2 separate regions of the Homo sapiens genome follow, and region 2 is linked to region 1. The links come from fine-mapping of genetic effects on gene expression. A gene starts in region 1. The other region holds a variant in brackets. All regions are shown on one strand. Distances are between the middles of the regions.

Region 1 (8,474 bases):
GAGGATGGGAGTGACAACTTCCAAGCTCTTTACATGTTGAACAGGAAACTGAAAGCCCCTTGGTGTTCCTTTGTAAATTCATCTTAAAAATATTTATCATAATTGAAAAGTGCTAATATCAAATTTTCAGTCTGTTTATATTCCCCCTAAACTCAGATAAATATACATTTTATTTTGTGTGTCTGTGTGTGTGGGTTTTGTTGTTGTTTGTTTTTTGTGTTTTTTTTTAAGATATAGGGTCTTGCTCTGTCAAGGCTGGAGTGCAGTGGCACAATCGTACATCTCTGCAGCCTCGAACTCCTGGGAGAAAGTGATCCTCCCGCTTTAGCCTTCAGAGTAGCTACGACTACAGGCACTAACCACCAAGCCCAGCTAATTTTTAAAATTTTTTGTAGAGATGGGAGTTTCACTTTGTTGCCCAGGCTGGTCTCAAACTCTTGGCCTCAAGTGATCCTCCTGCCTCAGCCTCCCAAAATGTTGGAATCACAGATACTTTGTGTCTTGATTCTTGAAAGGAAAAAACAAAGATTTTTAATGCCTCTTATCTTGTACGCACTTTCCTTCCAAACAATACCCTTTTGCTGCCATTGTTCTCGTTATGAATAGCTTAAAGAAAAAGAAACAACTAAGGGTAGTAATAGGCCAGGAATCACTTACTGAATACTAGGTCTTCTTGTATAGTTTGATACCCTATAAATTGTGTGCATCTGATGCATTTCACCTTCAAAAGGCTCAATGCTCTGTATTATTTAGTAGTAATCAAAATTTCAAGTTTTACTTAACCTCCTGATTCACTGCCCAATTTCCTAATAAATACGGGCTAAGGGTCAATGGGGTCATTTGCAAGTAATCTTGTAGTCTACTCAGAAAGTTCTGCAAAGTTAGAAAGTGATTAAATGACTGTTTGTTAAGATATACTTACATAGTAATAACCTAAATGCATTTGTTAAGTGGTTGTAGAGAGAGGGATTTAAAATTTTATCCTATATGAAATTTTCCTTTTTGGTGTCTGTTATTTAATAGGATTGTTTGAATTAGGGGATACTATTTGGTGCCTTTGTAACTATATGAAAATTAGTTGGTTGAATATTACTGCTTTCCATGTTCATATTTATATTTGTATAGACATATATATATATACACATATACTACTTTCCTTTCCATTTTCATATTTATATTTGTGTATACACATATACATAAACATATATTTTATACATTTTTGAAAAGGAAAATTAACTTAAGGGCATATTTAATGAATATTCAAAAATTTTTTTGCTGATCAAATTATCATTCTGCTTTAAACTTTTGAAATGATCCAAAAAAATTTTAAATGACTTAGATTTACTGTTACAAAATGCTTGTCTTTTGATGTCACAAACATTATATACTATAATCACTGGCCAGAGATAATTGCTATAAGTATAATGAAAAGGGAAATGATGGAAGATCTCTGCAGCTATCCTCATAAATGAGGGTGGGAACACGATGGGCAGTTCCAAAGTTGAAAATAGAGAATATATGTGGATTTATATTAACATAATTGGTATTCTTGGATAGTTAAAAATGGCTAAACTGTAGGAGAAGCCCGAGTAATTACTGTTAACAGAGGAATAAATTTGAGGGCAATAATAATGATGATAGGCCAGGCACTGTGGCTCATGCCTGTAATCCCAGCACTTTGGGAACCCGAGGCGAGCGGACCACCTGAGGTCAGGAGTTCGAGAGCAGCCTGGCCAACATGGTGAAACCTCGTCTCTACTAAAAATAGAAAAATTATCCGAGTGTGGTGGTGCGTGCCTGTAATCCCAGCTACTTGGGAGGCTGAGGCAGGAGAATCACTTGTACCTGGGAGGCGGAGTTGCAGTGAGCCGAAATCGCGCCACTGCGCTCCAGCCTGTGGGCCAGAGCGAGACTCCGCCTCAGAATAATAATAATGATAATAATAATAACGCCACCAACAATACTAAGAGCTAACATTTACTGAGTGCTTACTATGCACCAGATATTGTTCTAAGTATACATTTATTATCTCATTTAACCATCCATAATACTGTGGTATAGACACTTTTATATCCATTTTATAAATAAGTAAACTGAGTTATGGAGAGATTAAACGACTTGCCAGTAAGATTCAAAGCCTGTGTACAAGCTCACGCTTGATTCTGGAGCCAGTGTTCTTAACACAGTATCTTGAGAATGTTAAACTAAAAAGTTTTTAATTTACAGTATTCTTTCCACAATTAAAAAAGAAATTATGAGTAATTATTTTTAGTTCTTTCTTCTCTTCAGGCATTTCCCATGGTTCTTTTCAAGACATAATACATATCATTTAGTGTTGTAGATCTGAAAAAACAAAAGTAGCGTGAAGATCAAAAATTTTCTAAAGAGACGGAGTCTCGCTACGTTCCCTAGGCTGGAACACCCAGGCTTCTCCAGCCTCACACCTCTGAGTAGCTGGAACCACCCTGTCCGCTAAGGTCAATGTTTAATCGTATCTTTGTAGGTCTACTGACCAGTTAAAAAGAGGTGCTGTATACATTGGTTGTTGTCTTGTCAGAGTTTGATGCTTCTATATAGACCATTGTTTTTACATGCTAATACAATTGAAAGCCACTACAGATATTTATATTTACAACCCAAAGCTAGGTTTTAACAAGAAACTCATAAGGCAAAGGTGAGAAGTAAAATAATTTAGCGCCAAGTGGAGATATATGTGCAATGCTACTTTGTTGGGCTCAAAACATATTTTTCTTTTAGAAGACTGACAGGCTTGAAGTTTATGCCTCCAAAGACAAAAGTGATTATGTTTTGTTTAGTAGCTTGCAAAGTTGCCAAAGGCCATTTTTTCTACTCTTTCCCTGAAATTGGTTTATATGCTTATTAAAGTCATTTATACCTATTTGCAAATGCTTAACATAGTTTCAGATTTTAAGATTTCCCTGCAACTTTATTTCCCTTGAAGTTTACAGCAACAGGAGTTCATTTTTATTTTTAATTGCATTTATTCAGTAAGTAAACTCCGCCACAGAAAAACTTAGTAGACAAGGTGAGTTCCCCTGTGCTCCGTGGCAAAGAGTGCGGTGGGTGACATTGACCCATGGTTAGGTAATCTGGTAAGGAAAGACCCCGTTGTAACACATCTGAGCAACGAGACCAAAGGAAGGGCTTGCTGCCACGAGGCGAAGTCTGCTTTTTTGAACAGAGAGCCCAGCAGAGTTGGGCGGCAATCGTGCCCAGCACTGAGGCCGAGGAGAAAGAGAGCAGGAGCATTACATTACTGCACCAAGAGTAGGAAAATATGATGCATGTTTGGGACCAGGCAACCGAAATCCCTTCTCAGCAGCGCCTCCCAAAGCCGGGCACCGCCTTCCTTCGGAGAAGGCGCAGAGTCCCCAGACTCGGGCTGAGCCGCACCCCCATCTCCTTTCTCTTTCCTCCGCCGCTAAACACAGACGAGCACGTGAGCGTCGCAGCCCGTCCCAGCTGTGCCTCAGCTGACCGCCTCCTGATTGGCTGAGAGCGGCGTGGGCTGGGGTGGGGACTTGCCGCCTGCGTCGCTCGCCATTGGATCTCGAGGAACCCGCCTCCACCTCAGGTGAGGCGGGCTTGCGGGAGCGCGCGCCGGCCTGGGCAGGCGAGCGGGCGCGCTCCCGCCCCCTCTCCCCTCCCCGCGCGCCCGAGCGCGCCTCCGCCCTTGCCCGCCCCCTGACGCTGCCTCAGCTCCTCAGTGCACAGTGCTGCCTCGTCTGAGGGGACAGGAGGATCACCCTCTTCGTCGCTTCGGCCAGTGTGTCGGGCTGGGCCCTGACAAGCCACCTGAGGAGAGGCTCGGAGCCGGGCCCGGACCCCGGCGATTGCCGCCCGCTTCTCTCTAGTCTCACGAGGGGTTTCCCGCCTCGCACCCCCACCTCTGGACTTGCCTTTCCTTCTCTTCTCCGCGTGTGGAGGGAGCCAGCGCTTAGGCCGGAGCGAGCCTGGGGGCCGCCCGCCGTGAAGACATCGCGGGGACCGATTCACCATGGAGGGCGCCGGCGGCGCGAACGACAAGAAAAAGTAAGCCCATTCCCTCGGCCCGCCGCCTTCTCCCCCGGCGACCCCGCCCGCCTGCCCGCCCTGGGCTCCTGGGCCGGCCTCGGCGTTAATGGGATTGGGGGGGGCAGCCTTTTTGTTTCTGCTGCTGCTCCCCTCCCCTCTCTTCCCCCAACCTCGCCGGCCGGGCTCCCCCGCTGTCCACGTCGCCATCTTGTCGTGGGGGGTGGGAGACGCCTCGAAAGTGCTTTCAGGGGCCGGGGTCTGAGCCCTGCTTGCCCTCCCCGCCGGCCGTGGGGGCCTCGCGCCGCCCACCTACCCGCCTCAAAAACCCAGCCTGCTCTGTGGCCCCATCCGGAGGGGACTTTACCCAGCCTGAAAACCCCGGGAAGAGAAATGAGCTGCAGCTCGGTAGCCGCGGTTTGCACCCGGAGCTTCCGCTCCTTCCCGCCCCCATCCTCTCCAGTTCCATTGAAAACTCGGCCCTGGGGCGGACCCTGCACGCTGGTCCTGGCTTTCCAGTGGACTTGGGGCCTTGAGTTCCCGACTGAGGGACTCGCGTGGTCGGATGCGATCTTGTCCTGTAGTTGTCCAGCCGTCGCGGGTGTCTTTGCCTTTGTGCATTAGGGATTTGCCGCGATGGCCTTAAGATGCGAACTTTTTAGTTTGCACGTGCAGGTTTTGTTTCGTTTTAATCGCCTTGAAAAACTTGCCTAGACTGAGAGTCAGAGTAATGGGAATTTAGGGAAATGGCAACATTTTAAAGAGAACTTCAGAATTGGATACTTGAGTTCATATCACCTGTCACGAGAACGCAGATATTATAAATGAATATATGCCTCATTCATTCTTCAAATAATGAAAATGTAGGGGCTGGTTAAATTTAGGCAGTTTTAATGATACTGAAAAAAGTATATGATGAGTGAATGAAATGCGGCACTAAAATGTTGCAAAAATTTTCGAACTCTGTCTCATTTTCCTGAAATTGAAGTATATTAAAGGAAAACCGTCAACATATATCTAAAGTAAGTAATCACTCGGTTAGAACTTAATGCAAGTTTTATAAATCACCTTGAAGTTTGAGTCTAAGGGGTACATTAGAGATTAAGAATTGTGAGTTGGACCAGTGGTGTTAAGAGCGGACTCCCCCATCCCCCAACACACACACAATTTTGCCCACTTTGGCATTTTAACTTTTAAGGAAATCACTTAAGGAATTGAAGATTTAGAGTAAGAGTTTTGGTTAGTAGACTGGCTTTGCTGTTAAATCCTTCCACTCTTCTGGCAGAGAGATTAATTTCCCTAATCAGTATCAGCAGAAGATAAACTTGTTTATATTCCTGCTGTTTTGTAGATCCCTTCTCCTGGTCCTTCTTCAATAGAATATTAAATTCTTAGTTTGTATACAGCAGAGAAGGTCACTTATAAAATTCAAAAAGTGAGCAAACAGGTCTAGATTAATTCCAAGAGTTACCAGGAATTAATTGCAGTTTATTTTGCGGAGGTGATTACAGTGCTTTTGATGAAATGATAAAGCTGCTATATTGTAAACCTAAGGCAGATTACCTCTGTGTAGTGCCAGTTTTCTATCCTTATTATATATTGAATCATACTTAATACAATGCATTAAATTATGTACCACTTTTTTTATATACAGTATCGAACTCATTGTTTTGCCATTCATCCGTTCAGAATATCAGAAGCAGTTTTGAAACGAATTAATAAATTAGCTACTGTTCATCAGCCCCAATTCTAAATAAGCTCTTAGATTTTCCTCAGCCCATCTGTTACTTTCAAAATTTTCTCATTTGAAAACTTGGCAACCTTGGATTGGATGGATTCATATTTCTTAGTATAGAAGTTCTTGATATAACTGAAAAATTAAGTTAAACACTTAATAAGTGGTGGTTACTCAGCACTTTTAGATGCTGTTTATAATAGATGACCTTTTCTAACTAATTTACAGTTTTTTGAAAGATAACTGAGAGGTTGAGGGACGGAGATTTTCTTCAAGCAATTTTTTTTTTCATTTTAAATGAGCTCCCAATGTCGGAGTTTGGAAAACAAATTTGTCTTTTTAAAAGAAGGTCTAGGAAACTCAAAACCTGAAGAATTGGAAGAAATCAGAATAGAAAATGGGTATGGTTATGATACTGTAGATTTAACGCAGGACATTTCATGTTGTTCCTAGTTATAGGGGCTGAACTTATTTAATAGCACGTGCATTTTGATTTTTAGATTTTTAAGGGAATGTCAAGAGAGTAATGATTCTGTTTCAGGCTTCAGGCCAGACTCCTTCAGAGTTTTCCAAAACAAATAATTACTGAATCATTAAAGTAAAATTTCTGAGAATAGATATTCCTTAATTTCCTTCATTAACTTTGGCCATTAAAAGTCAAGAAGCTCTCTCATTTATTAGCAAACTTTTCTCCTTATGATTCTATTTTGATTGTCCTTTTGTTTGAGGAAGCAGCATATGGTGGTTAAGAGCATAGGATCTAGAGGCAGATACCTCTGAGTTAAGGGTCCCAGCCCTTCACTTGTGAGCTTGAGCAAGTTACTGAATGCCTCTGAGCCTCTTTCCTCCTTTTGAAATGATGATAAGAATAGCAGCCATCTGAGCAGTTATTGTAAAGGTTAAATGAGATAATGCTTGTGAAGCACTTAGCCCATTGCAGGAGTCTTGATGACACTGTGTACTTGAAAATAGATGTTACCTGTTAAAATTCTTGTTTAAACTTCCACAACTCTTAAAACTCTTTTTTGCTAGTCCTTCCAGCTGTTTCCTTTAGTTTCTTTTCTGTGTCTTCATGCATCTTTTCTATCTCCTGAAAGTGAAAAGACTAACATTGGATCCAGAGCTTGAAAAGCGTTTTTTTCCTGTTACAATGGGCAAAAGAGTACATCCTTGGGTTATATTGGCACCTAGTATCAGTTATTTTTCTTGAGCATCTGATCTGCTCTCTACTCTAGTGGAGGCCTCCTGCTTCACAATTGCTCACCCCTGTGTTTTCTCCCCAAATAGAATACTGAGTTTACTCTGGACTCTAGAGTCAAACATACACAGTATTCTAGTCTTACTGTTCATTTAAGCAAGATATGTGCAAGACACTGCATTCTTAGTACTGGCAGTAAGTTAAAACATTTTTCGTCTTGATGCCAAAGTTTAGACAATTTTATAAAAATTAACCTTTGTAAAAGATAATGAGTTGATAAAATATTCTCAGTAAAGCAGCTACGTGGTAGAAAAACTGTCCTTTGCTTATGAGTTTCTCCAGAGTTAAGACCATTGGGTTCCATCTGAAGGCAAGACTTCAAGCTTGTCTTACTGGTCTGTTTTGTGGCTCAATTTGTATGAAGTCTATGCACTCTTCCACACGTGTGTATTTACTGAACTATCGAGTTATTTTAGACTGAGAAAGTATTGGAGTTCATTCCTACGGTCCACTGCAGAGCACCTTGTGCAGTTTGGAGAATGTCAACTTTTCTACCTGTTAACTTCCATTGTCTTTACTTTTAACGCCATTGTCTGTGACTCTAATGGTGTCACGGCTCAGGGTTTAGATTTTGTGGTTACATTCTATTCTTGTATGTCAAGAGTGGTGTATAGAAAGCTGAGGGGGATTATTTAGTCTCTTGACTGATTTTTTTTTTTTTTCTGAAGAACTCAGTTTATTATGTTTGGTGGTGAAATAAAAATTGATGTGCATGGATGTTAAAGATTTGGGTTAAATTGTGTGTTCATAGATGCCTTCTCTTAGTATATAATTTTTTAAATTTAGATACTTAAAATACTGTATCCCTTTATCTAAGATTAACATAAGTCTGTTTCTTAACCAGGATAAAAAAATCTAAATTTAAATGTGATGTTGGATGAGTTTCCAATCAAGAAATTGATTTTTTAAACTTTGTGACTAGTTATCCAGTGGGTGGATTTTACCCAGTGTGTGTATGTGTTTTCTGCTTAACTCTGGAAGGTTAGAAAGAGAATTTGAAACTAAGACAAGCCAAGCTTCTTGTTGCTCAGTATTTTTGGTAAAAATATGGTCAGATTGTTTAAATTAACTATAGGCTTTGGAATTTTAAAAATAATTATATCTCTTGGTCTCTTGACACATCAAGAATTAACTGTTTTGTATATGCGTTGAGTATTAATGTTCATGTTTTCTGCAGTAGAAATTTATAAACCCTTATTTATTTGCCAGACATGATCCCTTTAGAGAAATCTAGTATCTAAAACCTGAATTTTTAAAACAAAATTTAAAATTTTTGTTTCATAAAAACAAAAATGTGATTACCTCATGGCTTTTTTCTTATAGCTTTTGATTGTTTTTTAAAATCGTAGTTCAAAAACATTAACCTAAAATTTACCATCTTAACCATTTCTAAGTACTGTTCAGTAGTGTTAAGTATATTCACATTGTGCCACTAACTTCCAGAACTTT
Region 2 (8,474 bases), 220 kb before region 1:
CTGTTGGGGGCTCATTACAGCTGTTGGTGCCTGCACTGACAGTGGCATTGTTAGGGATGGAGCCCCTGAGCTCGGGGGAGACAGCGGAAGCGTGCAGCGTCTGTTTAATGTGAGTGAGGGCTGGCATGCTGCTGGCAGCTCTCAACAGTGAAGCCTGCTGCTCGATAAGGCATTATTATCAGAGCCTGGGGGCATCCAGGGAGCAAAAGATTAGCTGACTGAGCATATATCTAAAATGGGTTATTTTTAAAAAGCAAGCAGTACAAATACTGCAGCTTGTCTTGTTTTAGCATTTAATAATTACACTTTCACTTTACCAGCAAGGCATTGAGTCAGTGGCATTTTATGAAAAGCATCCTCCCAAACCTGAACTTTGTGAGTCAGATTCCCATCCTGTGTGTGGTACATGTGGTTGGATTGTACAAACAGATAATCAGAGTTTTGCAAAATGTTTCCCAACCAGCATGGGAAAACGTGCTGATAGCAATATGATTGGGCTTTGAGGGAGAGCCACTTGCTGGCTTTTTTTCTTTTGTTTCCCATACATGGAAATGCCATTTCAACTTGAAATGTGGATACCTTACCAGAGGATTGCTTGAGCCCGGGAGGTTGAGGCTGCATTAGCGAACTGGGACTGCACCACTGCATTCCAGCCTGGATGACAAAGTGAGACTCCTGTCTCAATTTTTTAAAAACCCACACACAAAAAAAACAACAAAACAAAAAGTAGAACCTTAAATGCTATCTTAAGGCTGAATAGTCTCTAAATATTGAAAGTAGACCCTAGCCAAAAGAGACATTACCTGTTTCTGTAATATAATGAATGGTATTAGTGTACTTATCTTGCATTTTAAATTCAATTCTGTAAATGTTTATGGAGCATGCATTATGTGCCAGGGATGAAGACACAAGAACAAAATGTGGACCTGCCTTTTAATTGCTTACAGTCAAAGGTCATGATAACACCATGTGATGGAGAGAAGAAAGTCATGATTGATCCTCGTGGAGGTTGGAAGGACTTCCCAGAGGAGGGGCTGTGTGAGCTGTGTTTTGAAGATGAATAGGGATCTTATAGTCACAAGAGGAGGGCATAGACTCCCAGACAGAGGTAACAGCAGTGCAAAGGCACAGAGGCTTAAAATTGCAGGATGTGCCCAGGAAACCCCAAATGACTAGATGAGGCAGATTTGTAAGAAGGGAAATGGTGGTGGTTGGCGGCGGGGGTAGGGGGGTGGTGATGAAGAAGCAAAGTCATAATGGGTCTGATGTCCTTTGCTGAGGAGCTTAGACTAAACTGTTTAGGTAAAAGGAGCCAGCAAAATCTTTAAGTGAGGGAGTAACATAAGATTTGCATGTTAGAAGGCTCTCTCTGGCTGCTATGTACAGAGGGAGGCTAATGGCAGCAGATCTGGTGAGGATGCTGGGCCCGTGATCTGGGAACTTGCCTGCCCCAAGGCAGCAATCATGGGAGTGGAGTCAAGGAAACACTAAAGAAGTAGACATGATAGGACTTTTTAAGTGGGAATGGCCAGGGCTCTGGCCATTTGGAAGCCTAAAGAGAATGGAATAGCATGAGTTCGGTTTGGGGGAAATTCAGTGGTAAGATGCTTGTTTGTCAGAAACACACTTGAGATGGGAGATCAGTTTGGTGTCATCCATGTCCTCTTGGTAAGTGGAAACTATAATATAAAATCTTTCAGGCCAGGTGCAGTGGCTCACACCTGTAATCCCAGCACTTTGGGAGGCCAAGGTGAGTGGATCACCTGAGGTCAGGAGTTCGAGACCAGCCTGGCCAACATGGCAAAACCCTGTCTCTACTAAAAATACAAAAATTAGCCGGGCATGGTGGCACGCACCTGTAATCCCAGCTACTCAGGAGGTTGAGGCAGGGAGAATCGCTTGCACCCGGGAGGCAAAGGTTGCAGTGAACCAAGATCACGCCATTGCACTCCAGCCTGGGCAACAGAGCGAGACTCTGTCTTAAAAAAAAAAAAAATCAAAAATCTTTTAGTAGATGTTTATAGAGAGAGAAGAGAGGAGACTTGAAGAAGGAATTCTAAGTAAGGGTTAAGGTTGAGTGGAAAAAAGAAGAAGAATCAGAAGGAAGTGGTTTCATAGTAGGATAAATCAAGTGCTGAGATGAAGTCAGTTCACTAACAGACTCAGAGTTCTATTGGATACGGCATGAGGTTCTTGGTGTCACCATCTTAGGATCTGCTCATTTTTGGGGTTTTAAGAACCTGTCTGAACTCCACTTAGCCAACTGAAGCTTGCCTTCAAAGTTAACACAATGTGCTTTCTCCCATATAAACCTTTTAAGCTGTTTCTGATGACTGTTCCCCTTCCTGTTAGAGCTCCACCTCTTTTAATTTAGCCTCCATACCTTTAGAGTAAGGTCTGCAACTTTCTTCCTTAATTGACAGTGGAGATCAATATGTAACCCAGATTGCAAAAATGGTTTGGGAACACTGCATGTTCTCACTCATAGGTGGGAGTTGAACACATGGACACAGGGTGGGAAACATCACACACTGGGGCCTGGCAGGGGATGGGGGGCTGGGGGAGGGATAGCATTAGGAGAAATACCTAATGTAAATGACGAGTTGATGGGTACAGCAAACCAACATGGCACATATATACCTATGTAACAAACCTGCACGTTGTGCACATGTACCCTAGAACTTAAAGTATAATTTTAAAAAAATTTTTTAATAGTTTGGGAAGAAATTGTGGGCATGTCATTTGCTTGAACAGATTTTGTTCCCCAGCCAGAGGACCAGAGAAGAGTTTGTCATGGCTACAGTGGAGGAATCAAACTCAGAATAGCATGTGAAAGGCACATTCCACACAGAAACTTCGGCCCGTGCATCAGCACTGCAGACAGGGGGAGAGGAAATGAATTCTCAGCCAGTAGATTCCCAGGCATCACCTTGAGGCAGATATGGCATATTCTTGGCCATAGTCTCTACTTCTCTAACTGGGCAAAGTGTCTAATCAACTATAACCCAAAATATCTTCCCACATGGCATAAGTGTCGAATTCATACATAGATCAGAGGGAGAAATGAAATTGTGGTTGTCTTAAAAGTTTACACAGTTTAGGGATCTCCATCATGAAAAATGATCTAAATAAATGAAATGGTATTTTTACTCTTTATCCTACAAGCCCTATACAAACTAAGTCCATAAATATCCTATTTGATGCTTAAACCAAAAGCTTTATAAAGAGAATTTCACTATGTGAAATAATGACTTGAAGAAATCCTATTGTGGATGCTTTTGTTAAGTTGCTAAACCTTTTTTAAAAAGTAGATAATCATCCAAGATATCTTCTTTGTGACTCTTAAGTTTTAGTGTATTTCAAATGTGGATAGTTTTTGACTAGGAGGTTTGTTCAAACGTTCTTCTCGACCACTAGGGGGTGCTCTAAAGGTTAGTGATGTCTAAATGATTGACCAATCAATTAAAACACCGTGCCCAGTTAGCAATCATCTCCACTGAGAGATGCCTGCTTTACCAGGCTAAAAAAATGATCTTTATCATGGCATAGAGACTATAAAAGCTGTGTCCTTTTATTTTCATTAACCTAATTAGAAGTCAAGCTAATTGTAGGACTTCATAGAACTGGCATCGGGAATAGCATGCAACTGTTAAAAAAATCATGGTCTTGATGACTAATTATATCAGGAAATAATATGCAATATAAATGAAAAGAGAAGTGTATGTTTTTTACTTTTTCCTTTCTGTTTTTAAAACATGCTATAAAATGTTAAGTATAATTAGGACACAAAGGAAAAATTAAATCTAGTTAACATTACCTTGAAAACTTCTTATTTGCCCTGAAATCTCCAGTTCTTTGGAAGCTAAAAGCTTGAGACTTCTATATCTGGTTGTCAGGATTAGGGTGATTTTATTTGAATTTTCTTTATTTTCTTCTCAATTTTCTATCTATTTACTTTGTAATTACATTTGAACTATGGATATGTAATTAGTTTTATAAATAGAAAAATCAAAGCTTTATAAAGGAAAATATAGCATCAGCAGACCTGATTGTCCTACTTAACTCTTCCACAAACTGTTTTAACTATGGGCAAGGTACTTCACTTCTTTGCCCTTTGCTTCTGTAAAATGGTTGGGTGAAACGAATCTTGGCAGTTTGTTCCAGCTCTTCTAAAGTTCCATTTTAAATTTTACCAGGAGACAAAAATGGTTCCTATTATGTTCACTCTTGAAGCATTTATTAACCCTCACAATTGGCCAGGCACTGTGCTTGGTGCTATTAAAGATATCTCACTTAGTATCTGGGCTCTGCCTTCAAGGGTTTCCGGTCCCCCATGGAAAAGAAGACCAAGTGCACAGATCCATCCCAGCCCTACACAATGATACTGGAAAGCTGTATGTGGACCAGAAATGCCAAAGGAGGTTCCATCAGGAAGAGGGGACTTGTGCTCTGACTCTGCTGTACCCCTGATCATATGTTACCACTTATTTATGCTTTAAAGAACATCCTGGCCTGGATGTTTCACAGTGTGTTAAACTGCAAGGTAGATTTCCTCTTTGTTTCCCTGGTCTACTGTATATATGCCAGTAAGCCTTGTCAGGTTTCATTATGAGAGATGGCTATAATGCATCCAGATTACTAGGAAAACACTTGGTCTTTGAAAAGAGCTGTGTGTCCCTCTAGGTTTGAAATGCAAAGTCCTAAGGCTTTGTTATATTCAGGACATATTTCACCTTCCCAAAGACTAGTCTCAGCTCAGACAGGATGTATCTTGCCTGTGGGCTTGACACAGGGGTTGCTGGGTGATTGAATTAACCTCTGACATCTTCTGGGCTGTGCAAAATGATAAGTTCAAAAAAAAAATGCAGCCATTAGACTCCTTCTCATTGTTTCTTCCTTGAAGCCTTTGTAATCTTTCTTAATGTGGTTAAATTCAAGTTATTTCCAGTTCAGACATGGTGCAATCAGATTTCCTCATGCGGGTGCTTTTCCACTGTGACCTCTTTGACGTCAGTAAC[T/C]GTTTCCTGTTTATTTGAACTCCCTGCTCACCCTGTAGATGACTTTGTCTGAGAAAAATAATAAAGCAACGGTACTTAGGAGAAGTTCAACACTGCTATCTGTTACGGAGATTTCCTTCTCCTTTCCCCCAGCCGTCAATAGCACTCTGCAGCTTTTCATACAGCATGAGCTTGTTATTCATGTAGAAATACTCCAAGGCAGTTCTTAGAACTTGGGTAAGTAAGAATAGATGTGGCTCCCAGCTTAACATTGCCTTAAAGCAATAGCTACATTTTTCATAACTTTTACGTGTTATGTCTATCTTTGAATTATTTCCAAAAGGTAATCTGCATCCTCACTATAATTCTGAGTATGGTGGCTATTTCCTACTGCCTTGGTTTCTGGAATGATACATCTTCAAATGCAGTCTTTAAATCATAGAGACAACAGATTTTTTCTTTAAATGGAGACAAATCTTTGCAATCTGGTTCTGAGATTGAATCAACTTTATAGAAAGGAAGAATAACTGCTATAAAAAGTCTCGCTTACAGTAATATGTTTTTAGTACATAAGGAGGGCATTTGTTTTGCAATAATAATTATTATAAAGCCCCTAAAATAGAAAATATGAATTACCAGTCAGTGTTAGAAAACTTATCAGAACTGAAACCTTTGTTAGTATGTTTTGGTTATCAAATCTAGTTTTGTAACCCCTTGCTTAGCAAGCATTTCCCAGAAAGAAAAGTCCTTACCCGGTCAAGGCCATTACCATATAGCATCGGGAAACATCCCTGTGTCCCAACAGCTGGGCTAGGACTCCTTCCACCTCCTTCGACCCTCTATACCCTTGTCCCACACTGAGGGTTGGGGGAGCTGCTGCAGTTGCTGTTTCGGCTGCTGTTTCATTCCTGTCCACTTGTGAGTGTGTGTGTACCTCCGCCAGTCTTGGAGGTCTGTGAAGGAGGCCTCGAGACCCAGTGCATGCAGCTCACTGCCACGTGTGCCACAGCCACAGCCAAGGGGCCTTCCTATGCCTCATGCATCAGGCCCTTTGGAGCCCTGGGAGCAGACGGCCATGGCGGCTGAAGCTGCAGTGGATGCACTCATGATGATGAGGATAATAATAGTTGCTAACATTTCTTGAGCATTTCACTTATGGTATGCCAGACACTATTCAAAGCCCTTAGCTTAAATCATTTAATCCTCACAAACCTGTGAGTTGGGTTGTCTTATTATCCCCATTTTGCAGAAGTGAGTTTTGTGAGAGAGAAGCTAAATACAGCACAGCAGGAGTTGCTCTTGGACCTCAAGCATCCTGGCCCAGAGCCCAGGTGTCGCCACTGCCCTGGGCTTCCTCTTAGTCATACCAGGGACTTGGGCACTGGGCACAAAATCTCCTCTTTATATAATGTAGTGGTACCAATAGCTTCTATTGATTGAGATTCTTTTCTGGGCTTGGCACTGTATGAGGCACTTGGCTTCTGGTTTAATCTTTACATGATCACTGTAGTTATAGATGTTATTATCCCAGATTTATAAATAAATAAGGAAACTTCTTACCCCTTAAAAATGGGTGTGTGTGCCATGCATGGTTGCTCACGCCTGTAATCCCAGCACTTTGGGAGGCCGAGGTAGGATTGCTTGAGCCTAGGAGTTCAAGACCAGCCTGTGCAACACAAAGATACCCAGTCTATACAAAAAATTAGCCAGATGTGGTGGCACAAACCTGTGGTCCCAGCCGCACAGGAGGCTGAGGTTGGAAGGATCACTTAAGCCCAGAAGTTCAGCGCTGCAGTGAGCCATGATCCTGCCACTGCCCTCCAGCCTGGGTGACAGAGCAAGACCCTGTCTCAAAAAGAAAAACAAAAATTGTGTGTATTTTAGCTGAAATTCTCCTGGTAGCAGAAAATTTACTTCAGGTAGTAAGAAAACTTTCTTAAGGCTATGCAAAAAAAAGAACTAAAAATAAAGATTCAGAGGTACAACGGATGTCTCATGCAACCCAAGGGCAGGAGTTGGCCAGCTCTCTCGGCTGATCTGAAACCAGAAAGACATGAGGAACCCTGGCAGTTTTGCTCTTGGCTCACTCACCCTCCCTGATCTCTTGTCTCTGCCTCACTCTATGTTTCTGCTTCATTCTTCTCCTTCACCCACCCACCTGTCCATCCACCCACCCAGTCTTTCTCCACTCTCTTATACCCAGGCATTTCCCACGTTTACACTGCAAAAGCAGTTTCCGTTTCCTAACTCATGTTTCCTCAGTTCCTGCACACAGCCTAGACTAAATTAAAAGCTTTTTACCTCAGTTTCAGTTTTCTGGAAAAGAGACTCTGAGCAGGTGCAGCTTGATCTAACTGGCTGTGCACAGATGCTGAGCGTTTACCCATGCGGCCAGGCTGGAGCATGGGTAAATGCTGAGGAAGGGATCACCATGAGCTGAGCAGATGCCTCCAAAGATGTTTGCCCCAGTGACCTTACAGGATCTTGCCCTGCCTGGTCCATGCTCGCTCTCCAGTCACTTTCCTTAGTTAGTATCATCTTGTCACTGGTACCATCCTGGCATAGCACTTTCATCCACCCGGATGTTATGTCTCTTGTTCATACAAATTGCCCATCAGCTTTAACTCCTATCGAACAGCCCTTAATGAGGGGGCCTTAGGGAATGCACCTTACTTATACTGACAGCCATTATTCGGGGGATATTTTTAGCCCCTTGGGCCTGGGGAAGGAATAGTTCTGAACTGATAGCCAGGGCAGAGAGTGGACCCAGACTGCAGCAGGTCAGTGGCATCAGAGCAAGTGACGACAGGAATTCTATTATCACCAGGCAGCAGCTCCTCTGCCTCCCACACCTGTAACTCACACCAGGTGTGGGACAAAGGGATTTCTGAGTTGCTTTCACTCCCACCGGTGTTCATCACCCCATGTTAATGACTTGTACTTGTGGTTGGCTGAATCAGGGACAAAAGAGAGGAGCAGGGACAAAGGGCTTAGCCACTTGGCTTTAGAAGTGATGTTAAACCGGTCTCCTGGCCTTGAGATTTCCTACCACACAGGTCAGGGCAGACTTCACCTGACAGAAGCCAAAAGCCTCAGGTAAAGCTGTACAGATGTGCAGGCTCAGTTTCTAGGAAAATGGACTTTAGAAAAACCAAAATGGTTCTATGCACAGGTTTAAATACAGAAACAGTCATCTTTGCCATCTCTGTCTAGAGTGGGATTTGGGAAACCCCTCTCTGCCATAGGAGTGACTCACTACAACCATAATCCATCTTCCAGTACTTCCCTAAATGCAGGATTTCCAAAAAATGCTTCACCTAGTTGCTTCACAATTGAATTTGTGAAGCATGATTTGGTGTTTGTTGAGTCATCAGTGATACTAATTCTTAAATAGCACAGACTGAGAGTAGAGCTGTAGGTGAGAGGTTATCTTTTGCCTCCTTTTAGAGCTTCAAATACAGGTCTTTGCTTTGTAAA

Evidence for each region. PIP is the estimated chance that this variant, and not a neighbour inherited with it, causes the effect.
Region 2: its variant is fine-mapped to the expression of HIF1A in whole blood (TOPMed, PIP above 0.99).

What each region holds. Positions count from the first base shown.
Region 1 is chr14:61,691,787-61,700,260 of GRCh38, forward strand. HIF1A (hypoxia inducible factor 1 subunit alpha) reads left to right here and starts at 3,727. Exons shown (of 15, transcript NM_001530.4): 1 at 3,727-4,053. The coding sequence starts at 4,019. It overlaps HIF1A-AS1 (HIF1A antisense RNA 1), which reads right to left and starts at 4,037. Exons shown (of 2, transcript NR_047116.1): 1 at 3,921-4,037. RefSeq lists an enhancer at 3,046-3,415 and silencers at 3,486-3,785, 4,086-4,185.
Region 2 is chr14:61,472,012-61,480,485 of GRCh38, forward strand. All of the region lies in intron 9 of PRKCH (protein kinase C eta), which reads left to right. Among named protein-coding and RNA genes, the nearest start is that of PRKCH-AS2, 69 kb to the right of the region's middle. RefSeq lists enhancers at 4,717-4,816, 4,927-5,006, 5,640-5,699, 6,777-6,946, 7,544-7,713 and a cis regulatory region at 6,862. The variant T/C (reference allele first, on the strand shown) is at 5,019.